Linked DNA regions of Homo sapiens. The protein of the gene in region 4 purifies or fractionates together with the protein of the main gene of each other region. This does not show direct contact. Each region holds a gene or a part of one and is shown on either strand. Other genes may lie near its edges.

Region 1 (3,500 bases), on a different chromosome or scaffold from region 4:
TTTCTTGTGCAGGGTTACACACCTAGCAAGTAGCAGAGCTGGCATTCAAATTGAGGCCTGATGTGCTAATGTAAAAGGAAAAAAACAAACTTTTTTTCCTTTTGTACTTTCACACTCAACATGGAACACTTCTGTGACAAGGTGTGTGAGTTTGTTTCCCCCACACACCAAGCAATTCTCCAGCAGACACCAACTGGGTATCCTATAATTCAATTCATTTCTGACATTACCTGGAAATAGTGTCAGATCCCACAGGTTGAGGGCTCCATCTCCCAAGACTGCCAACACTTTTGATGCCAGTCATGAGTCTGGGCCACCCATACTCCTGACTGACCAACTACAAACTAGAGTCCTTGATTTCCTTTGGTTCAGTTAATTTCCTAGGACAGCTCACACAACTCAGGGAAACACGTTCACTGGTTTATTATAAAAGATACAGCTGAACAGCCCAATGAAGGAGGTACACAGGGCAAGGTTGAGGGAGAGGGAGAGGGTGTGGAGCTTCCATGCCTTCTCTGGGCTCACACTCTCTCAGCACCTCACCAATCTGGAAGGAACCACTGTGTCCTGCTGCCTTCATTAGCATTTAGTGAGCACCAATTGTTTGTCAGGTGCTGAACTATGTACTGGCAATACAAAAATGGGAAAGATATGACCCCTGTTTTGGGGGGGTACATAGTGCACTGAACTAAATTGCTGTCTATAATAATCTATTGGGTGGAAAAGTAGGAAGTTCATTCCAGTTCTGCAAGGTGTCTGCTTTCAGAATGGAGCCCACTTTGGTGGTGGCAAGGCCTGGCTGAGTTCTTTCAAAGCAACATCCAACTTCTCTTTGCTCTTTGACTTCCTCCAGATTCTCTCCTGTGCTGGAGGTAATAAGGGTTGCACTTCCCTCTTTACTTACACTGGTGAAACATGCAGTGAGGATTCAAGGTCAAAATTGGGTCAAAGTTAAACTAACACAGTCTCCTGCCCCACTTACCTGTCCTCTAACCCCATCCACCAGCCCTAAGTGGTCATCACATGATCAGAAGTCAGCTGGGGGAAGAGCAGGGATAGATAGAGCAATTAAGGAGCCTCTTTTGGGGTAAGCCACATGACAGGGGCTTTGCAACAGTCTTTCATGAGTGGCCGAAATCCCCCACTCACTGCAAATGTGCTTCTCAAAGATGCAGGATTTTTTAATAAACAGAGGAAATGATAAATTATGTTGTAATTCCACTCCAAAGGCATTTGGTTCTTAACAGCCAAATCCTCTGTAGTCTTTAAATAAACAAAAACTTATTTGGTGAACAGACAGGGAGGAAAATGAAAGATTTTCTGTACTTGGGTTCCACATGTCAACAATTTCTCTCCTGTGTGTATGTTGGCCAAAGCTGTATCATGATAAATGAATAAAGGAAAACCTCGAGCCCAGGGCAGTCAGACAGCTCAGCAAATGGCTTTCAGATGATTACTCAATTTCAGTTGACATTTATCAAAGAGTTTCTCTGTGACTCTGTGTCAGGGCTGTAGTGGTGACAGGGACAAGAATGAGACTACCTGTTTGGATGTGCTGAGAATGAGTAATGCTGGAGCAATTCATTCTCCATCTCTTCTCTCCTACAGCCTCTCTCAAAAAGAAACACTGGGTATGGAAATTCTCACACTTGCCAGAAGAATTAACCACCTCTTCTATTCAGTTTAATGACTTTCAAAGTCCTATGAAATATTCAGGCCAGAGAGAATTTGAGAATTTTTTTCCTGTCTGGTGTGTGTGTGTGTGTGTGTGTGTGTGTGTGTGTGTGTGTGTGTGTGTGTGTGTTGGAAATTACAAAATAAGTTGGAATGCAGAAAGTTAAAAAAAAAATCTCACCAGGCCCTACTCCTTTAAAATTAGGTATATATCTTTCCAGACCTCCTTTCTCTGTGCATATATGTGTGTGTGTGTGTGTGTGTTCGTTTCATTTTGTTTTGCCTTTGAGACAGTGTCTCACTCTGTCGCCCATCATGCAGTGGCACAATCATAGCTCACTGCAGCCTTGAACTCTTTGGCTCATGCAATTCTCCCACCTCAGCCTCCTGAGTAGCTGGGACTGCAGCTATGCACCACCACACCTGGCTTTTTTTTTTTTGCTTTGTTTCCTAGGCTGGTCTCAAACACCTGGCCTCAAGCGGTCCTTCTGCCTCAGCCTCCCAAAGCGCTGGGATTACAAGTGTGAGCCACTCTGCCTGGCCATATATAATTTTTTTTTTTTTTTTTTTGCAATGGAGTCTTGCTCTGTCGCCCACGCTGGAGTGCATTGGCGCAATCTCGGCTCACTGCAACCTCTGCCTCCCTGGTTCAAGCAGTTTTCCCTGCTTCAGCCTCCTGAGTAGCTGGGATTACAGGCGCCCGCCACCACACCCAGCTAATTTTTTATTTTTTTTTAGTAGAGATGGGGTTTCACCATGTTGGCCAGGCTGGTCTTGAACTCCTGACTCAGGTGATCCACCTGTCTCAGCCTCCCAAATTGCTGGGATTACAGGCATGAACCACTGCGCCCGGCCATATAATTTTTTAGAAGGAGAGAGGGGAACTATTCATATTCTGATGTTTGCTTTTTTTTCTTACCCTGTAACAATCATGGTCATCTGTCCATGTGTGTACATAATAGATACAATTTATTATTTCATTGTGATACAGTATTCCATAATATGGGTCTACCATAACTTAATTCACTATTAGCCCATGACACTATTTAAAAATTATTTCACATGCATTGGAGAATGTTTAAAGATGATTTTTTTTTTTAAGAAAAAAGAAAGGCCCCTATTCTAAGATTATCTGATAAGGTCTGCTCTTTCTCCTTCAACCTCAGGCTAACATTTATTGAATGCCTACAGTCGGCCAGGTTCCATGCTAGACCCTTTACACGTGTTCCCACATTGAAACTTCTGATGAATCCTTGTTAATGTAGGTGTTATGATTATCTGTGTTTTTCTGTGAAAAAAACAGGTTCAGAAAGGATATTTAACTTGCCCAAGGTCACACAGGTAGTAAGTGCTAGAATGAAATTTCAAACCCACATCTGACCTTGAAGTAGGTCCTTAATCAGTGTGCTTTGGTTCCCAAGTCTTCGCTGAACACTTACTCAAAAGGGACCTCGCGCTGTTCTGGACCTGGACGGTGATGTGAGAGAAGCAGAAGTCTTGCTTTCATAAAACACATAGCAAGCTGTTCCTAATTAATGACTGCAAGTAAAATAGCATAGTACCTGGCACATTGTAAACACCAAAGAAATGGTAGCTCTTATGGAGACAGTAAAGATTACATATTAATCCCCCACCTGTTTGGCCAACTTCTCTAGAATATGTCAGAGAGCAAGCAAAATGTTCACCAAGCAGTGAATAATGATAATAATAACAACAATAACAGTATTGACAGATCAGTAACTAATATTTGCTTGGTGCTTTTTAGTTTTCAAACTGCTTCTACATTCTTTGTTGCATTGAAACCACTCAGTGAAACTTTGCGGTTA
Region 2 (3,500 bases), on a different chromosome or scaffold from region 4:
GGGGTCTCTCCTGTGGTCAGGCAGTCTCTGGATGGGGTTTGGCCAGAGGCCTAGCAAGGTCTGAAGCCCCCTGCCCACCTCCCAGGGCCCAATGAGACGGCACCCTTCAAGCCTGAGGGGGAGCTGCATGAGCTCAGCACCAGGCTGCTCCTCCATTACTCACCTCAGGTATTTGGGGGCCCCAGGGGAGTGGTTGGCTCGACTGTGCTACTTCCCCGGCTCCCACACTCTGCCTGCCACCCCCTCCTCCCTCTGACCCTGGCTGCCTGCCCATTCCCCTATCCCTAGGCTTGTAAGAACAACATCTGCCTGGACCTGTCCCCCAGTCATGGGCTTGATGGGCGCCTGACGGGCCACAGAGTGGAGACCTGGGATGTGAAGGTCTGTGAGCACGTGTGGGTGGTGTGTGCAGGAGGCATGAATATGGGGCACATGTGTGTTCGGAGTCAGCTGGGGAGCAGCGCTGTGCCTGGGGAGGATTTGGACAGTCCAGCTCAAGAGAGCAAAACTTCCTTTCTGGGTGGTCTGCTGGGGTGGAGTAGGGCAGGAAACTGGCTGGAAGGTCCCCCTCACTGCCATCCTCCTTCCCCCAGGATGTGGTGAACTGCGTTGGGGGTATGGGTGCCCTGCTGCCCCTGCTGGAGCGAGTAGCTGCACAGCCCAAAGAGGCTGAAGCAGGTCCAGCTGAAACGCATGACCTCGTGGGTCCTGAACTGACCTCTGGTCACAACACCCAGGGCCTGGTTCTCCCATTGGGTAAATCTTCAGGTAAGTGTTCCTGGTGCCTATGTTGTGGAGAGGGAATCTTGGCATGGTAGGGGGGTGGAATGCCCAAGGTCTCCTGGCCACTGGCAGGCCCTTGACACACATCTGTCCCCTTCCTGATGGCTGGCAGAGGAACGGATGGAGAGGAACGCAGTGGCTGCTTTTCTGCTGATGCTGCGGAACTTCCTTCAGGGTCACATGGTGAACCAAGAGAGCCTGGTGCAGTGCCAGGGGCCTGCCATCATCGGGGCCCTCCTGCGAAAGGTGGGGCCCGGTGGGACAGGCATGGGGGTTAGGGGTATGGTCAGCCTGTCTGACCGAGGGGACTGAGTGGGGAACCCTGTCAGTCATGAAGAACCTCCTGGGAGAGTTGCCACTTGAGTGGGGCCTGAAAGGCCGAGCAGGGTTGGGTCTGGAGGATCTGGGGAAAGGCCCAGCACAGGTCGGGGCAGGGACCCGCACAGCAGGCAGGAGGCTTGCGTGTCAGAGGCGGCAGGAAGCCCCCAAAGGGTTCTGAGCAGGCTGGTGGCCATGTTTGTGGCCGTCATGGCTGTGCAGGGAAGAGTGGCAGCTGAAAAGCTCAGACAGCAGACAGGCAGAGCCTGAGCCCTCACTCCAGCTCCTGTCTTATCCCAGGTCCCAAGCTGGGCCATGGACATGAACGTGCTCATGTCCGCCCAGCTGCTGATGGAGCAGGTGGCAGCTGAGGGCAGCGGGCCCCTCCTGTACCTACTCTACCAGCATTTGCTCTTCAACTTTCACCTCTGGACCCTCAGTGACTTCGCCGTGCGCCTCGGTAGGTGTGAGGACCTGAGCAAGGGGCCGGCCATAGGGCAGCTGAGCACTGAGAAGTTAGAACTCTGCTCTGGGGGATCTGAGGGACTCACCTGTTAGGAATCCAGAATGCCATGGGGCGGCTGAGGGGACTATGACCCTGCCCTGGAAGTCTGACAGGCACATGGCCCTGGCCTGGAGGATCTGAAGGGCCCAGCTCAGCCTAGTGGCCTGAGCCCTCTGCTCATTCCCGCTCAGGTCACATCCAGTACATGTCCAGCATAGTTCGGGAGCACAGACAGAAGCTGCGGAAGAAGTACGGCGTCCAGTTTATCTTGGATGCTCTGCGCACCCACTACAGGTGAGGCCAGTGGGGCCAGATGGGCCATGGGGGGCTGACACAGTGGCCTCCGGCCTTGGGGACTGGGCGGTGCGCTTCCCTGACTCACCTGCCCACCCTCTCTCCCCGCCTTTCTTTGGGACCTGGCTGGGTGTGCCTACTGACCTGCCAGCCCGCAGCGGGAGCGCCCCCTGGCTGCTGACGACCTACGCACCGTGCAGACCTCCCTCCTGGGCCTGGCGAGGGAGTTCCTGGTGCGGAGTCTCTCAGCAGATGACGTGCAGGTCACGCAGACCATGCTGAGCTTTTTGGCGGCCACAGGCGATGACGGTCAGGTAGGCTGGAGGTTGGGGAGCGGGAGGCTTGGGTGAGGGGAGTGGGGGCCCGACACAGTGTGAGACCCTGCATCCCCAGGCGGTGGGTGCGCTGGACCTGCTGCTGGCCCTGCTGCACGGTTCCCTGGTGCAGGAGTCCTTGGCTGTCTTTCTGTTGGAGCCAGGGAACCTCGAAGTGCTACTGGCCCTGCTAGTGCGGCCAGGGTCACTGCCCCTGCTGCCCGATCGAGTCTGCAAGGTACACCCAGCCCACCCCCTCCCCTGGCATCCCATTCACTGGGGCCCCTGCCTGGGGTTCAGGGAGGTACAGCAGGCCTTGGGCCAGCGGATGAAGCTGCCTTCAAGGGCCTCTTGAGCCACACACCTGCACGGTGACTTCCCCTCCTACAGTAACTCCTTCCACATGATGACAGTCCTCCGATGACCCCCACACAGATCCTGCGCAGACTGCAGCAGAATGAGCGGCTACCTGAGCGGAGCCGCCAGCGCCTCCGGCTGCGGGAGTGTGGTCTCCAGGGTCTGGTTGCCTGCTTGCCTGAGGGGACTGTTTCCCCCCAGCTCTGCCAGGGCCTCTACAAGCTGTTCCTGGGGGCAGGTACAACCTGGTTAAGGCCAAGTGGAGGGGGTGACATGTCAGAAAAACAGGGCAGGCAGGCCGGAAGAAGGAAGATAGTGGCATAGGGGCCAGGGCTGGGCCCTGCCCTTTCTAGTCTGGTCAGTCCCTCAGGTCCCCCCAACCCATCCCCCCAGATTGCCTGAACCTCTCAGATCTGCTGGCTGTGGTACAGCTGTCCCTCCAGGCTGACCTCAGCGTTCGCCTAGACATCTGTCGCCAGGTGAGCATGAGAGGTAAAAGCTTTGGGGGAGGGGGAGGGTGGCTTCTACCCTCTGGCCTTCCACCTTGCCTGTCTCATGAGGGGTCTCTGGAGCCCTCCTCTGCAAAGGCCCTGGATGAGGGTCTGGAGCAGGCAGTTGGATGCGTCCTCACTTGCTGTGCTCTCGCCTGCAGCTTTTCCACCTCATCTACGGACAGCCAGATGTAGTGCGGCTTCTGGCCCGACAGGCTGGCTGGCAAGATGTGCTGACCCGGCTATATGTCCTGGAGGCTGCCACAGCCGGCAGCCCCCCTCCGTCTTCCCCAGAGTCACCTACCTCCCCCAAGCCAGCCCCACCCAAGCCACCCACTGAGTCACCTGCTGAGCCTTCAGATGTCTTCCTGCCCTCAGAGGCCCCCTGCCCTGACCCTGATGGCTTTTACCATGCTCTCTCCCCATTCTGCACGCCCT
Region 3 (2,664 bases), on a different chromosome or scaffold from region 4:
TAATAGCTGGCCATAACTGTTGAAAAAAATAAACTGTATAAAAGTGTATGAAGTCAGCTGGGCACGGTGGCTCACAGCTGTAATCCCAGCACTTTGGGAGGCCAAGGCAGGCGGATCATGAGGTCAGGAGATCGAGACCGTCCTGGCTAACTCGGTGAAACGCTGTCTCTACTAAAAATATAAAAAAAAAATTAGCCGGGAGTGGTGGCGGGCGCCTGTAGTCCCAGCTACTCAGGAGGTTGAGGCAGGAGAATGGTGTGAACCCGGGAGGCGGAGCGTGCAGTGAGCCGAGATCGCGCCACTGCACTCCAGCCTGGGAGACACAGCGAGACTCTGTCTCAAAAATAAAAAACAAAAACAAAAACAAAAAAAAGTGTATGAAGTCAGAAGTAGGCTTTGAAAAATGAAATAGTTGGAGATTTTAACTTTACCTGCCCCCACTAGGCAATACGTTTTAATGTATAAACTGTTAAGAAATAAGTGAACAAAATCACACCAAAGGAAATCTGCCTATTTTATTTCCATTAGAAAAATATTATCTATATAACATTTTGTTCCACTATCTTCTCCTTGATCTCAAATTTAAACACTTTAATTTTACTCAAGTAAAAGCAGAATCACATAACGGACATCAAAACTAAATAGTTCACATCATTAGTTTAAATTAAATATGTTCTTGATTATTTCTCAGGAATAGTAACTCTTCTTTCCTACCTGGTATTTCTCTTTTGTTTACTGAGTAACTATGTAATGGGTATCTCTTTCCTATATTCAGTAATACAGGTGCACACAGGTGTAATTTAAAAAAGTAACTGGATTCCTTCTCTAATATTCATGTTCAACTCTCCCTATTACATGGTATTTCCATAATAGCTTCAGATATTTTCATCAAACTCACACTGTCATCAATTGTGAAAATTAAAAGGTTAATTAAGATGTTACATCAATTGTAAAAATTAAAATGTTAACAATTCCAGACTACACAGCACTGGGCCCACTTATAGTGATGCCGTTGTCAGTGGTCCTTGGATAGCTACTGCTTCAATTTCAATTCGGCTGCCCTGTGAGGAAAATGAAAGAATTTGTTGTAATCATTTTGTACAAATTGCAAACTCTATAATACCTACTAAAAACATGCAACCAACAGCAATATAACATTTTTAACATTAAACTTTTCAAGGAAGGAAAGGAGAAGGAAATATTCACCAAGAACCTATAACAGACCAGGTTACCATGCTAGGTATATTCATATACTATATTAGCTTATGTGATTCTCACAGAAGCCCTATTAGAGACGTATTTTCCCCTCAATTCACAGAATGATATGCTGAAGTGTAGAAGGAGTAATTAAGTCATCCCAAGTCACAAGCTAGATAGCAGAGGTTGAACCCTTGTCTTGTGATTCCAAGTTCAGAGCTCTTTCTACTACACCCAGTACCTTAATAGGTTTGATAATGATCATTCCAAGTAACAACTAATTAAAGCAATACAAATGACACTCTTAAAACATAAATTTTCTTTAGTAGAAACTGCAAGTGGAAGTCAGTAAGAGCTGCTTTTTTATAGGCAGGAATATTGTGCTGCTAAGCTTTGAGTTAAAAGTAGCAAAATCAAAATGGTGAGAAATATGTGTGCCCCTGGTTTAGAGATTATTTTTCTAGTGGAAGGCTTAGATTTTTAATTGTACAATATCCAGGTGAAATTTTTACTGCAGAACTCACAAACAAACCTGGCTCAAATTTATAGTCCCCTAAGTAACACTACAACAGTACAGCTGCTATTTTATTTTTTCTCACAATTTTTTTTTTTTTGTGATGGAGTCTCGCTCTGTCGCCCAGGCTGGAGTGCAGTGGCGCGATTTCGGCTCACTGCAAGCTCTGCCTCCTGGGTTCATGCCATTCTCCTGCCTCAGCCTCCCGAGTAGCTGGGACTACAGGCGTCCGCCACCACACCCGGCTAATTTTTTTTTGTATTTTTAGTAGAGACGGGTTTCACCATGTGAGCCAGGATGGTCTCGATCTTCTGACCTTGTGATCCGCCCGCCTCGGCCTCCGAAAGCGCTGGGATTACAGGCGTGAGCCACCGCGCCTGGCCTTTTCTCACAATTTAAGTATTTTGATTCTGATTCTATGTTCATGTGCTGTCTTAAAAGGTTTCTTAATTTTTTTTTCATGCATGTAATATGGGATATTTCCTTTCAGACTTTAAGTCCCTGGGGAAGCAGGGTCTATTTCTTTTCTTTTTTTTTTTTTTTTTAAGAGACAAGGTCACACTGTTACCCAGGCTGCAGCACAGTGGTTCGATTATAGCTCACTGCAGCCTTGAACTCCTGGGTTCAAGTGTTCCTCCCACCTCAGCCTACCAAGTAGCTGGGACTATAGGTGTGCACCACCACCATGCATGGCTAATTTTAAATTGTTTTTGTAGGGATGGCTGTCTTGCTATGTTGCCCAGGCTGGTCTAGAACTCCTGGCCTCAAGCGATCCTCCTGTGTTGGCCTCTCAAAGCACTGGGATTACAGGGGTAAGCCACCCTGCCCAGGCTACTTCTTTTAAGTTTCCTTTCACAGTGCTTAGTTTACTTATAGAAGGAAAACAATGTAGAAACTGAAAACTGTGTACATTAGTCATTTAAAGTGTACTTACTTTGGGTAAAGCAGCAACT
Region 4 (3,500 bases):
CCTTGCTGGATAGGGGTATGGACCTCATGCCACCCAAGCCCACTCTGCAGGACACTGGCTTTTGTGCAGCTCTTCATCACAGAGTCTGTTGAGCTACAACCCAGAAAAAAAACATGAAGGGATCTCTGGTCTGTCTGATTCATCCTCTTAAGCATAGATTTGTTCAGTATTTGTCTTCCTTCCAGGATAAAATTCTTTTTTTTTTTTTTTTTTAAGAGACGGTGTCTCACTATGTTGCCCAGGCTGGTCTGGAACTCTTGGCTTCAAGCAATCCTCCCCCATCGGCCTCCCAAAGTGTTGGAATTATAGGCATAGCCACTGCTCCCCACCCTGGGTAAGATTCTTAACCTGTGCTCCACAGGCTGATTCTAGGTAAACATTTGAGGCTAATAAAAATGTACGCCATAGGCCGGCGCGGTGGCTCATGCCTGTAATCCCAGCACTTTGGGAGGCCGAGGCGGGCAGATTACGAGGTCAGCAGATCGAGACCATCCTGGCTAACACGGTGAAACCCCGCCTCTACTAAAAATCCAAAAAATTAGCCGGACGTGGTGGCGGGCGCCTGTAGTCCCAGCTACTCGGGATGCTGAGGCAGGAGAATGGCGTGAACCCGGGAGGCGGAGCTTGCAGTGAGCCGAGATCGCGCCACTGCACTCCAGCCTGGGCGACAGAGCGAGCGAGACTCCGTCACAACAACAACAACAACAAAAAAATGTACGCCATCATCGGATTCTCAAGGAGGTCTAGGGTCTGGGGATTCCCTAAAAAGTTACGAAGCATTGGCCGGGCGCGGTGGCTCACGCCTGTAATCCCAGCACTTTGGGAGGCCCGGGGCGGGCGGATCACGAGGTCAGGAGATCGAGACCATCCTGGCTAACATGGTGAAACCCCGCCTCTACTGAAAATACAAAAAATTAGCCGGGCATGGTGGCGGGCGCCTGTAGTCCCAGCTACTCAGGAGGCTGAGGCAGGAGAATGGCGTGAACCCGGGAGGCGGAGCTTGCAGTAAGCTGAGATTGTGCCACTGCACCCCAGCCTGGGCGACAGAGCAAGACTCCGTCTCAAAAAAAAAAAAAAATTTACGAAGCATCAACGAACCAGGAAAAGGTAAAAAGAGAATTGGAAGAGATAGACAGAATTTTTACTTTGTCTTTTTGTTTCCTTCTGGTTGCCAGCCTCAAGAGATGTTTGCTTGATTCAGGGCTGAAGGAGAGTAAAGAAAAGCTGTGAGGCTGTAGTAATCTAGTAGTGGTAAGCTCAGCATGAGAAGCAGTACTAGGAACCCTCGGCTCTTAAAAGGAAAAGATTTTATTTTAATTAGGGGGAAAAGGGAACGAGTTTATCTCTGAGGCCAGCACAAGAAAACAGGTGAGTGGGTCTAGAAGTGAAGAGGGCTCTCAGGGGACCCCCAGAGGAAGCTCCAGCACAAACTCCCTGATCCCTGTGACTTCACAAGCTGCACCTCCCATCTTCTTGAAACCCCTCCCCTGCCATAAAAGGGCAAAGCCTTGTTGAAAGATTGTAGAAGAACCCTGTCTTCCCACTCACCCAAAGAAAGCAAAGACGAGTTCCTGGAAATCTAACTCTGAAAACTCACCCCTCTCTCCAAGAAACATCTGATGTGGTGATTTGGTTCAATGGCAGTGTTAGTAGAGAACTATACGTGAATTATAAAGTGGGTTACTTTTACAGACTCTTACAGGTTCGCTGGGGACCATATCATTAAGGATAACTATTTATTTATGAAATGAATTTCAAGTTTTAAATAACCAAATGACAAGCGAACTGTTTGGAATAAAATTGTTGGAAATGCAACTCACTTATAAGTTAAGGTATACCCAATTTTTGAACAAATCACATAGAGCATGAGAAAAACATCATCTAGTAGCCAGTTCTCTGATAGGTAATTCTTTCTGTGTTTATTGTTTTTTAAATAGAAGTATACAAATGATCATATGGAATGAAACCTAAAAAGAGGCTGAGATTAGGCACCTTTTTAAAAGAATGTCATTTTAGAAACAATGAAATTAATCAGAGCTGTACTTTGTAGGAGGCAAAGAGAGTCGTGGGAGTATTTCAGCTAGTGACTTGAAAATACATTTTTCTGGCAAATTTTTCTTTTTATAAATGTCTGCATTTGTCAAAAACCTGTTGGATGATGAAACGAAATTGTTGTTGAGAAGACAAAGGTAAAGTTGACGATATTACAAATATCAATATAATTTACTTTTCCTAATGACTAAATATTTTATCTGAGACCTTATTATATAAACTGTGAAAGTATTTCATTGTAATTCTACTGGTAAGGGAGGGTTTAGGGGTTCTCCAATTCAAATATACTCCCAATTGCAACTCAAAATCATCATGTTTAAAAAGTATTTAACAGGGGAAATAGTATAGTATTATTTGAGGATAATATAAATGTAAGCTCATAATATAAAATTCTGTTTTCGCAATTTGATTCCCTGTCCTCCACCCCCCACCCCCAGTCCAAGAAACTCAAGTTCGGAGCATGGCATTCTATGATGTATCCATCCAATTCTGCCATTCTAAGTATTCAGTTTTTCAACTTGTAGAAGAAACACCTCTAGTATTGTGTGAAATGGGTCTGGGAAGATGATGCATTTTTCCTTCAGGACCAGTGAAAATATTTATGACATCTATGAAATGATCTCATTTTGTTGCACAAAACCTTTCCCTGAAATCACTGTTTATCTGGGACCCAGCAGCCCAACTGCATAGCGCATGTTGTTCAATGGGCAGCCTGAGGAATGGATTCCAGGGCCCATATTGAGGCCAAGTAGAGGACAACAGGACTCCTGAAGCACTTGGATCCAGTTGCAGAGGTGAATATCTTATTTTGAAAGAATTAAAGCTGGCTGATGACCAGATAAAGAGATATCCACTAAAGATCAGGAATAATTTTTTAACATCTTATTTTCTGAAGAAATGCCAGCCCACATTAGACACATTATAAATGTGTAGATTGCAGGCAAGCAATGATCTAATTAGCAGCATTACAAACCCCAAACTTATTTCCTCCCCTTTGCCGGAAGCAAAGCTAATCAGTTAGGAGAAATAAACATCATTCCAAATGGCTCAAAACAATCAAAGTTATATTTCTGTATAACCACTATGCCATCATTTAAGGAGTACATTTCCAACCTGCCACACCTCTAATAGGTTGGCTTAACAGCACATTTGTAAGCATAAAACTAGAAAAATAATAGGGTGAAATAAATTAATTGAATATGAAACTTTAAGGAGAAGTTAACATAAAGTACAAAAAAATTATTCGTTTAAAATTCTAAGTACTCTTAAAAGAATTTATACAGCAGAAAAAATGCAAAACAATGCTGGTAAGTAAAAAAATTCATTTATTCATTTAAAGCCTTATGTCTTTCTAAAATTCCCAGATTTATTGTAGCTTTTATTAGCACTTTTCACTTTCTTGCAAAAGACATGGCAAAGTGTTTAATCCTACATATATCTTAGTGCCT
Region 5 (3,500 bases), on a different chromosome or scaffold from region 4:
CTGGTGCTGCTCTCAGAGCTCTGCTGCACCCTCAGTGCCTTCTCCAGTTTAATTTCTTCCAGCGTCTTGATGTGCACCTCCTGCATAGACTTTGTTTTACCTGCAGGCTCCTCTGATTGTCCTCTGCTGGCAACAATGGGTGGCAAAACTACTGTTTTTTTAATTTCACTATCAATCTTTAGCTTGATGCAAGTTGTATCCTTTTTGCTTTTTTGTCTCTCTGCTTCCTGCTGCCGATGTTTTTTTTCAGCCAGGACCTCAGAGAAGGTTTTGATACGGATAGTGGAGGAGCTTCTTGCTCCTGAAGTAGAATCATCAGTTTTTGAAGGTCCTTCTGTCTTGAGTTTAGTTTGCAATTCTCCACGTTTCTGACTGGCTCTTTCAAGAAGAATTTCTTCTAATGTCTTCACATGGATCTCACCAACTTTATTAACTTTATCTGTTTTCACAGGAGAAAAACATGTCATTATACTTGAAGTTCATCTCTTACTGACTTATGATCTCTCTATTCTTGGATCAAGACAGTCCAACAGAGAGCTATCATTTAAGCAGGCAATTAAAAGGATCAAAAGGGTAACATTTATTTCTTTTCCTTTTTTTCTTTTTCTTTTTTTTTTTAAGACAGAGTCTCACTCTGTTACCCAGGCTGGAGTGCAGTGGTATAATCTCAGCTCACTGCAACCTCTGCCTCCCAGGGTTCAAGTGATTCTCCTGCCTCAGCCTCCCAAGTAGCTGGGACTACAGGTACCCACCACCAAGCCCGGCTAATTGTTTCTATTTCAATTTTAGATTACTGCAAGTTCCAGGCAGTGGTCCTCAAGGAAAACTCTTTGGAGGCAAAAATTGATTTGTATTTCTATTCAGAAGCTTATTCTTCAGAAACTGAAAGCCATTTACTAGTTGGATAAATTTGTCATTATAAATCTTAACAAAAATAGCAATAAATTCTTCATTAACTTATGGCTATAAACATGTAATGAACACTGGGCTAGAAATACAATGGTAAGCAAAATAAAATCTCTGTCCACATGTAATTTACAGTCTAACAGATCAATAATTAAACTAGCTATAGCAGAGTATGGTAATGATAACTGCTTTGATAAGGTAGGTATAATGCTATAAAAGGACACAGCAGGAACACCTACACTTGTCTACAAGGAAATGATATTAAATTTAAAGGATAAAAAGAAGGTAAAACAGGTGACAAGATAGAAGAAAAATGCAGAAGGCCCAGAAATTGGCATGCCACTGAAGAGCTATTTTCAATGATACATTAATCGTTCTATATCTGTCTAAACTGAAGACCAAATGTCACACTTCACAGATAGAACCATTCTCATTACTGAAGGGCTAAGAAAATAAATAATGAAAAGAGATAGTGCTATGAAATAAATGATAATTTGGAGATCATACACATATATATGTAATCACTGAATAACAGCTTTTAATGAACCCCCCCCCCAAAAAAATTATATCTTTTCAAAATCTTTTTTTTTTTTTTTTTTTTGGTAAAGACGAGGTCTTGTTATGTGGCCCAGGCTGGTCTCCAAACTCCTGGCTTCAAGTGATCCTTCTGCCTCAGCCAATCAAAGTGCTGGGATTACAGGTGTGAGCCACCATACCCAGTCTGAAATCTTAAAATATACTGTGTTCTGTCTCACTTTCCAAACTCCTGAGTATACTATTCCCTCTACTTGGAGTATTCCGTGCTGTTCTCATTTCTCTTGCTACCTGTGTTTTTTGTTTGCTTGTTTTTTGAGACAGAGTTTTGCTCTGTTGCCCAGGCTGGAGTGTGCAGTGGTGTCATCTTGACTCACCGCAACCTACATCTCCTGGGTTCAAGTGATTCTCTGCCTCAGCCTCCCAAGTAGCTGGGCCTACAGGTGCCCACGACCACGCCTGGCTAATTTTTGTATTTTTTGTAGAGACAGGGTTTTGCCATGTTGGCCAGGCTGGTCTCAAAACTCCTGGTCTCAAGAGATTTACCTGCCTGGCCTCCCAAAGTGCTGGGATTACAGGCGTGAGCCACCACGCCAGGCCTGGTTAGTTTCAACTGAATTCAGCTTAAAACCTGATACCCTCCAATTTAGTTTTTCTGATCAAAGCACTGAACACTCAGTACACTGTAATTGCATCTTCAACCACACTAAAGACTTCATGAGAACAACGACTGTATTTAGGTACCTGTAATATTGCAAAGGAAGCACTCACTTACTGAATTAGTTCTTCAAGTTCTTTAATAAAAAATCACAAATTCTTTCAATCCAAGGTGGCAAACATTTCAAAATTACCACTCCAAGAAAGTACAACATGAATGGTGACATAGAGGCCCTGTTTCCCTCCCCTACCAAAATTTCATTGAAATGATAAAACATTAAAAATAAAATAAATCCACACCAGCAATGAGAAATAAGGATGTCACTGGCAGAGCATACATCTTGAAGAATTTCTAAAACAGAAAGCAGATGTCTGAATTTACAGAAAAATGGAAAAATAATAGTTAAAACCATAGGCGTGAGTTCTGTTCCTCCCAATACAGTCAAAGGAAACTGTCAAACTTGGGTTAACTAATATTAAAAGCAACGGTGGGATCTGACATAACCATTAGGGTAGAAATTTAAGGACTGCCTATAGAACAGTTGGGCCAGTCATGACCTCCTCCTGAGAACTGCTCCCTAAAAAGAGGCAAGTTTGCCCACGAAGAGCACATTATGAAGATGTTGGGGCTGGAGAGAAGTAGAGCATGAAAATCCCAAGCTTTCACAATACCAAGCAGAAAAAGGGGAGGGAGGAGGGATAAAAGTAAACAGCAAATCTGAAAAAGGAAAGAAGTTGTTTCCACTCAGAAAATAAAGTCTTACTGTGGCAATTGTATGAGCCCCCAGACCTCCCATCTTCAGTCCATACAAGCTGCCTGTTAGTACACCCTCTCCACTTAGCCAGACATAAATGGAGTCTCCCAGTCAGGAGAGAGGACAACTTGGGGAAAGGGTCTTTAAAATGAAAGGAAACCCAAGCCAGGTACTTACAACTATGGAAAAACAACAATATTTAAGATAAACCAAAATAAATAAAAAGAAGTGGTTAAGAAGCCAAAATAATACACAAACTTTTAAAAATAAAAATAAAGATTTGAATTAGAAATCCCAGAGCAGGCCAGGCGCAGTGACTCACACCTGTAATCCCAGCACTTTGGGAGGCCAAGGCAGGCAGATCACTTGAGGTGAGGCAGATCAGGAGTTGGAGACTAGCCTGGCCAACAGGGTGAAACCCCGTCTCTACTAAAAATACAAGTTAGCCAGGCGTGATTGCACATGCCTGTAATCCCATTTACTCGGGAGGCTGAGACAGGAGAATCGCTTTAACCTGGGAGGCAGAGGTTGCAGTGAGCTGAGATCACGCCACTGCACTCCAGCCTGGATGAGAGTGAGACTCTGTCTCAAACAAAAATAAAAATAAAAAATAAAGGCGGGCACAGTGGCTCACGCCTGTAATCCCAG
Region 6 (3,500 bases), on a different chromosome or scaffold from region 4:
TTTGTCTGAAACAAAAAAAGTTAGTCCTAAATTGAAGCACATTAAGGAAACTTCAAAAAAATGGGGGGACGGGTATGGCAAAACAAAAGAAATCATGACTTTCTTTTTCTTTTTTTGAGACAGAATCTCCCTTTGTTGCCTAGGCTGGAGTGCAATGGCACGATCTCGGCTCACTGCAAACTCCACCTCCCAGGTTCAAATGATTTTTCCGCCTCAGCCTCCCAAGTAGCTGGGATTACAGGCACCCACCATCATGCCCAGCTAATTTTTGTATTTTTGTAGAGATGGGGTTTTACCATGTTGCCCAGGCTGGTCTTGAACTCCTGACCTCAGGTGATCCGCCCGCCTCGGCCTCCCAAAGTGCTGGGATTACAGGCATGAGCCACGGCACCCGGCCGAAATCATGATGTTTTTAATATGACCTTTTACCCATAACAAAATAAAACTTTGCTAGTTCTTTTTTTTTTTTTTTTTTTTTTTTTTTTGAGACAGAATCTCACTGTCGCCCAGGCAGTGATGTGATCTTGGCTCACTGCAACCTCCACCTCCTAGGGTCAAGTGATTCTCCTGCCTCAGCCTCCCAAGTAGCTGGGATTACAGGCACTCGCCACCAGGCCTGGCTAATTTTCTTGTATTTTTAGTAGAGGCGGGGTTTCACCATGTTGGCCAGGCTGGTGGTCTCAAACTCCTGACCTCAAGTGATCTGCTGCCTCGGCCTCCCAAAATGCTACGCTTACAGGCCTGAGCCACTGCCTGGCCCACTAGTTCTTTAAAAGTATTTACACAAGAACACAACTTTTAAATGTACCTTTGCATGCATGCTTTTGGATGTCATTCTGCCTGAGGATATTTACATAAATGTAGGTCATTTTCTTATTATTTCAGTGAGCTTTAAAAATGTCAACTAAGCAGGGGTGAAAAAAGGCTAGCTCTTGACTATTCTCCAGCTTAGCTAGTACCTCAGCAAACAGTCCTCATAGGGGAAATATACCTTACCTTTTAATTTTTAAAATTTTATTTTCTTGGTGCTCATTCATCATAGCAAAACCCTAACCTATGTCTCAATGCCTATCACACTGCCCGTTGATGTAGAAGTTCTTTTTCTTCTCCCAGAGACAGGGTCTCACTCCATTGCCCAGGCTGGATTTAAACTCCTAGGCTCCAGCAATCCTCTCGCCTTGGCCTCCCGGGTAGCTGGGACTGCAGGGTCATACCACTGTGCTGGCTCACTTAACTACTTTTTTTGATTTATTTTTTTGAGGCAGAATCTCGCTCTGTCGCCCAGGCTGTAGTGCAGTGGCGTGATCTCGGCTCACTGAGATCTCCGCCGCCTGGGTTCACGCCATTCTCCTGCCTCAGCCTCCCAAGTAGCTGGGACTACAGATGCCCACCACCATGGCTCGCTAATTTTTTGTATTTTTAGTGGAGAGGGGGTTTCACCGTGTTAGCCAGGATGGTCTCCATCTCCTGACCGCGTGATCTGCCCACCTTAGCCTCCCAAAGTGCTGGGATTACAGGCGTGAGCCACCACACCTGGCCCACTTAGCTGCTTCTAAATGAAACCAAAATATTTTGTTATGAGGACTGGATTAGATCTTGCATAATAAAAGACCTAAATAAAACATTATTCTTAATGGCCTTCTAAAAAATGCCAAGAAAAGCAGGGAAAGTGCTGCATACAGTGTCTATGGGTCTTACCCCTAGTAGGAAATTAAATCGTACTCAGTAGACCAAGCTCATAAACCCAGAGCTTTAAAGGCGGAGGGCAAGTTTAAGAACTGAAAACATAACACCCAGTACTTTGAAGTTACACTGGAATGTAAGAAAATTTCTGGAGACTGTTCTTTTTAAGATTGCAAAGGCTACTTGTTGCCACTTCAGTCAACTTCTAAATTTAAAAAAAGTAACATGAAAGATTTCTATTATCTTTTACTGGATCCCCTTTAAAGAAAAAATATGCGGCAGGGCGCGGTGGCTCATGACTGTAATCCCAGCACTTTGAAAGGCTGAGGCGGGCGGATCACGAGGTCAGGAGATCGAGACCATCCTGGCTAACAGGTGAAACCTCGTTTCTACTAAAAATACAAAAAAACCAGCCAGACGTAGTGGCAGGCGCCTGCAGTTCCAGCTACTCAGGAGGCTGAGGCAGGAGAATGGCGTGAACTCAGGAGGCGGAGTTTGCAGTGAGCCGAGATCGCGCCACTGCACTCCAGCCTGGGCGACTGAGCGAGACTCCGTCTCCAAAAACAAAAACAACAACAAGAAAAAATATGCTAGGCCTGGCGTGGTGGCTCACGCCTGTAATCCCAGCTCTTTGGGAGGCCGAGGTGGGCCGATCACAAGGTCAGGAGTTCAAGACCAGCCTGGGCAAGAGACCAGCCTGGGCAGGAGATCAGCCTGGCTAATACGGTGAAACCCTGTCTCCACTAAAAATACAAAACTTAGCTGGGCATGGTGGCGGGCGCCTGCAATCCCAGCTACTTGGGAGGCTGAGGCAGGAGAACTGCTTGAACCCGGGAGGTGGAGGTGGCAGTGAGCCGAAGATCGCTCCACTGCACTCTAGCCTGAGCGACAGAGTGAGACTCTGACTCAAACAAAACAAAACAAAAAAAAGATGCTACCAAATCCAATAAAAAATGGTTTATGACTAAAAACACTAAAGACTATTAGGAGTGGTATGAGACCAGTATTTTATCATTAAGAATAGATTTTAGGCCAGGCATGGTGGCTCATGCCTGTAATCCTAGTGCTTTGGGAGGCTGAGATGGGAGGACTGCTTGAGGCCAAGAGTTACCAGCCTGGGAAACATAAGAAGATTCCATCTCTACAAAAAATAAAATAAATTTACTGGGTATGGTGGCATGTGCCTGTAGTCCTAACTACTTGGGAGGCTGAGGTGGGAGGATCTCTTGAGCCCAGGAGTCAGGAGTTCCAGACTGTAGTGAACTATGATTATGATTGCACCACTGCACTCCAGCATGGGCAACAAATGAGACCCTCTCTCTCAAAAAAAAAAAAAAAAAAAAAAAGGAGAAGAAAGATTTTATTTTATTTGAGAATTTTATTTGAGACAGGGTTTCACTCTGTAACCCAGGCTGGAGAGCAGAGGCATGATCATGGCAGGGTCAAGTCAAGTGATTTCTCCTACCTCAACCCCCTGTGTAGCTCAGACTATAGGCGCATGCCATCACATCTGGCTAATTTTTGTACTTTTGGTGAGACAGGGTTTCACCATGTTGCTCAGGCTGGTCTTGAACTCCTGAGTACACGCAATCCATCTGTATTGGACTCCCAAAGTGCTGGGATTACAGGCATGAGCCACCGTGCCCAGCCAAAAAGATTTTAAAATGTGCAAATTATCACAAAGTTTGTAGGAGACAGAAATGACTTAACATAATAACTAATGCCATACCCTACCAAAAATACTACTCAACACTATATATTCTCTTAGATTATATTCTGTCCGTTAATTCAGACTTTGAACTAATTAGCACAGAATT
Region 7 (3,500 bases), on a different chromosome or scaffold from region 4:
GATCATGAAAGATGCTGGCTCTGCACTTGGGGACCTCATCTTTTTTTTTTTAGTGACAGGGTCTTGCTCTATCACCCAGGCTGAAGTGCAGTGGTGCAATCATGGTTCACTGCAGCCTCTACCTCCTGAACTCCTGGGCTCAAGCAATCCTCCCAGCTCAGCCTCCAGAGTAGCTGGGACTACAGGTGCACGACACCATGTCTGGCTAATTTTATTTTTATTTTTTGCAGAGATGGGTTCTTGCTAGGCTGTCCAGGCTGGTCTCACACTCTTAGATTCAAGCGATCCTCCCAGCTCAGCCTCTCAAAGGGATTACAGACATGAGCCACCATGCCTGGCAGGGGCTTCATCTTTTTAAGCCTTAGCTTCCTAAATGGAAAGTGTGGAAATGGAGGTAACCAGCTGCTTACAGAACTCAATGAGATTTAGTTGGACCATCTAGACCTAAAAAAAATAACGTCGAGTAAGAGAAAAAAGCTTGGAACAAAACGCACACTATGTCGTCATCTGCATAAAGGGTCAAACATCTGAAACTACGGCACACACTGCTTGACTGAGAGGACAACAGGGGTTGTCAGACACACAATTTCTCGACAGTTACTTCCTGTAAGAAAGGGGGATGGGAGGACTTCAACCTCTGGTATTTTTCTTTTTTTTTTTTCTTTTTGAGACTTAGTCTCGCTCTGTTGCCCAGGCTGGAGTGCAGTGGCGTGAGCTCAGCTCACGTGAGCAGAGCTGGTTGCCTCCCAGGTTCGTGCAATCCTCCCACCTCAGCCTCCCAAGTAGCTGGGATTATAGGGGTGTGCCACCATGCCCAGCTAATTTTTGTATTTTTAGTAGAGACGGGGTTTTACCACATTGGCCAGGCTGGTCTCGAACTCCTGACTTGAGGAGGTCCACCCGCCTCGGCCTCCCAAAGTGCTGGAATTACAGGCGTGAGCCACTGTGCCCAGTGAGTATTTTTCATGATTAACAAAGATCAGAAGTATCAAAGGCAAAATGTTACATCTATGAATTCTTTTTTGTTTTCTTTTTTTGAGATGGAGTCTTGCTCTGTCTCCTAGGCTAGAGTACAGTGACGTGATCTCCACTCACTGCTACCTCCGCCTCCCAGGCCCAAAAGTGATCCACCCATCTCAGCCCCCCCATTAGTTGGGGTTAAAGTTATGCATCACCATGCCTGGCTAATTATTTGTATTTTTTTTGTAGAGAGGAGACTTAGCCATGTTGCCCAGGCTGGTCTTGAATTCCCGAGCTCAAGCGATCCTGTCCCCTTCGGCCTCCCAAAGTGCTGAGATTACAGGCATAAGCCACCGCACCCAGCCGACATCTATGAATTCTGAGTGAAGAGAATACGACGTGTGTTATCAGACGTCTACCAAAGGGAAACAGAGGTAGAGAGAGGTGTCCCTCCAGAGGATTCAGTGAGAGCACAGACGTGGTCTGCTTGCACGGAGCAAGGGACATGGCAGGCACTGAGTCCACATTCCCTGGCACACGGGGTGGTACCCGATGAACACTAGTGCCCTGGTGGTCATTGTTGGGTGCCCCCAGCTGCGTGCCCACCCGGCACCTCAGCCGCAGCAGGCCCCAGAACCTATTGTTCTCTGATGCAGCTCAGGTGTCTCGGGCCAGCCCGGTGTCTCTGAAAACCCTGTATGCAGAAGACCTGCTCACCCCTGCTGGTGGGTTCAAGCTGACCCAGCTTGGGGATGCCTCCCATCTCCCAAAGTGGTCTCACAAGTGTGGGGAAGGCTTCATCATGGCTCCACCTGCCCCAGACTGAAATCTGACTTATCTGTCTCTGCTCCTACAGGGTAAGCACATTGAGTGCAGGGTCTACATTTGCCCCCTTGGTAATTTTTTTTTTTTTTGAGACGAAGTCTCGCTCTTGTCCCCCAGGCTGGAGTGCAATGGCATGATCTTGGCTCACCTCAACCTCCACCTCCTGGGTTCAACCGATTCCCCTGCCTCAGCCTCCCGAGTAGCTGGGATTACAGGCGCCTGCCACCACGCCCGGCTAATTTTTGTATTTTTAGTAGAGACAGGGTTTCACCATGTTGGTCAGGCTGATCTCGAACTCCTGACCTCAGGTGATCCGCCTGTCTCGGCCTCCCAAAGTGCTGGGATTACAGGCGTGAGCCACTGCGCCCAGCCTGCCCCCTTGGTATTAATTTACATATTTATTACTTGGGCTGGGTACAGTGGCTCCTGCCTGTAATGTCAACACTTTGGAAGGCTGAGACAGGTGGATTGCTTGAGCTTAGGAGTCCAAGACCAGCGTGACCAACATGGCGAAATCACAACTCTACAAAAAATAAAAAAATTAGCCAGGTGTGGTGGCATGCCCCTGTAGCCCCAGCTACAGGGAGGCTGAGGTGGAAGGTTTGCTTGAGCCCCGGAGGTTGAGGCTGCAGTGTGCTATGATTGCACTACTGCATTCTAGCCTGAGCAAGAGTGAGGCCCTCTCAAAAAAACAAAAATTACTGGCCGGGCGGAGTGGCTCACGCCTATTACCCCAGCACTTTGGATGGCCAAGGCGGGCAGATCACGAGGTCAGGAGATCAAGATCATCCTGGTAACACAATGAAACCCAGTCCCTACTAAAAAGATACAAAAGGCCGGGCACAGTGGCTCACGCCTGTAATCCCAGCACTTTGGGAGGCTGAGGTGGGCGGATCACAAGGTCAGGAGATCGAGACCATCCTGGATAACATGATGAAACCCCATCTCTACTAAAAATATTTAAAAAATTAGCCGGGCGTGGTGGCGGGCGTCTGTAGTCCCAGGTACTCAGGAGGCTGAGGCAGGAGAATGGGGTGAACCCGGGAGGCGGAGCTTGCAGTGAGCCGAGATCGCGCCACCGCACTCCAGCCTGGGCCACAGAGCGAGACTCCGTCTCAAAAAAAAAATTATTTATGTATTATTTATTTATTTATGCCTTTGGTGCACGCATGGGTGGAATGAGGGCGATCTATGATTACCGGTGAGCAGGAGTCTGAGGTGGGACCCATCACTTCCCATGTGCCCAGCAACCCCAGGGGGAGATGCAAGGACAGCACAAGGAAAGGGGAGGCCTACACTCACCTGTGCTGGTCTGTGCCTTCTGCAACTTCAGAAACTGCTGCAAGAAGCTACCATCGTTGGCAAACTTGTTGGAAATGCAGGAAGAGTTGTGTGCATTTGTGATTCTAGAACCAAGACAGAGGACAGAGAGGGTGAGCTGGCTAGAGATGGAGTGAGGGCACCAGAGGACGAGGATGAGGATGAGGCCATCACCTCGTCCATCATGGCCCCTAACTCACCCCAGCACTCTCACCTACTGGGACCCCAAACTGGCCCCCAGAGATTTCAAGAGACTACTGCGAAGTGCGCACAGCAGGCTTCAGTACGGTAAGCTGGGAACAATCTTGTTCTGATAAAAGCAATACTCCATGTATTATCTCTGCCTGAATATTAACCCTCCAGGTCCAAATGGCCCTCCAACAAGATGGCTCCTG

The links.
Region 1: the proteins of RBMS1 (region 4) and MRRF fractionate together in Homo sapiens (co-fractionation; one large-scale study listed by BioGRID). This does not show direct contact.
Region 2: the proteins of RBMS1 (region 4) and NBEAL2 purify together in Homo sapiens (tandem affinity purification; one large-scale study listed by IntAct). This does not show direct contact.
Region 3: the proteins of RBMS1 (region 4) and RIDA fractionate together in Homo sapiens (co-fractionation; one large-scale study listed by BioGRID). This does not show direct contact.
Region 5: the proteins of RBMS1 (region 4) and ZC3H11A fractionate together in Homo sapiens (co-fractionation; one large-scale study listed by BioGRID). This does not show direct contact.
Region 6: the proteins of RBMS1 (region 4) and SNX3 fractionate together in Homo sapiens (co-fractionation; one large-scale study listed by BioGRID). This does not show direct contact.
Region 7: the proteins of RBMS1 (region 4) and SUGP1 fractionate together in Homo sapiens (co-fractionation; one large-scale study listed by BioGRID). This does not show direct contact.

The regions. Positions count from the first base shown.
Region 1 is NC_000009.12:122,323,882-122,327,381, forward strand, and holds part of MRRF (ribosome-recycling factor, mitochondrial isoform 1 precursor), read left to right. Parts: 3' UTR 1-3,500. UniProt on the Homo sapiens protein: Responsible for the disassembly of ribosomes from messenger RNA at the termination of mitochondrial protein biosynthesis. Acts in collaboration with GFM2. Promotes mitochondrial ribosome recycling by dissolution of intersubunit contacts.
Region 2 is NC_000003.12:46,996,666-47,000,165, forward strand, and holds part of NBEAL2 (neurobeachin-like protein 2), read left to right. Parts: intron 1-85; coding exon 86-168; intron 169-288; coding exon 289-381; intron 382-593; coding exon 594-768; intron 769-895; coding exon 896-1,029; intron 1,030-1,401; coding exon 1,402-1,561; intron 1,562-1,797; coding exon 1,798-1,900; intron 1,901-2,051; coding exon 2,052-2,214; intron 2,215-2,293; coding exon 2,294-2,452; intron 2,453-2,604; exon of another isoform or gene 2,605-2,634; coding exon of another isoform or gene 2,635-2,649; coding exon 2,650-2,809; intron 2,810-2,964; coding exon 2,965-3,050; intron 3,051-3,223; coding exon 3,224-3,500. UniProt on the Homo sapiens protein: Probably involved in thrombopoiesis. Plays a role in the development or secretion of alpha-granules, that contain several growth factors important for platelet biogenesis.
Region 3 is NC_000008.11:98,101,844-98,104,507, forward strand, and holds the end of RIDA (2-iminobutanoate/2-iminopropanoate deaminase), read right to left. Parts: coding exon 2,646-2,664; intron 1,062-2,645; coding exon 999-1,061; 3' UTR 501-998; downstream 1-500. UniProt on the Homo sapiens protein: Catalyzes the hydrolytic deamination of enamine/imine intermediates that form during the course of normal metabolism. May facilitate the release of ammonia from these potentially toxic reactive metabolites, reducing their impact on cellular components.
Region 4 is NC_000002.12:160,483,808-160,487,307, forward strand, and holds part of RBMS1 (RNA-binding motif, single-stranded-interacting protein 1), read right to left. Parts: intron 1-3,500.
Region 5 is NC_000001.11:203,844,123-203,847,622, reverse strand, and holds part of ZC3H11A (zinc finger CCCH domain-containing protein 11A), read right to left. Parts: intron 440-3,500; coding exon 1-439. UniProt on the Homo sapiens protein: Through its association with TREX complex components, may participate in the export and post-transcriptional coordination of selected mRNA transcripts, including those required to maintain the metabolic processes in embryonic cells.
Region 6 is NC_000006.12:108,223,041-108,226,540, forward strand, and holds part of SNX3 (sorting nexin-3), read right to left. Parts: intron 6-3,500; coding exon 1-5. UniProt on the Homo sapiens protein: Phosphoinositide-binding protein required for multivesicular body formation. Specifically binds phosphatidylinositol 3-phosphate (PtdIns(P3)).
Region 7 is NC_000019.10:19,307,010-19,310,509, forward strand, and holds part of SUGP1 (SURP and G-patch domain-containing protein 1), read right to left. Parts: intron 3,192-3,500; coding exon 3,088-3,191; intron 1-3,087.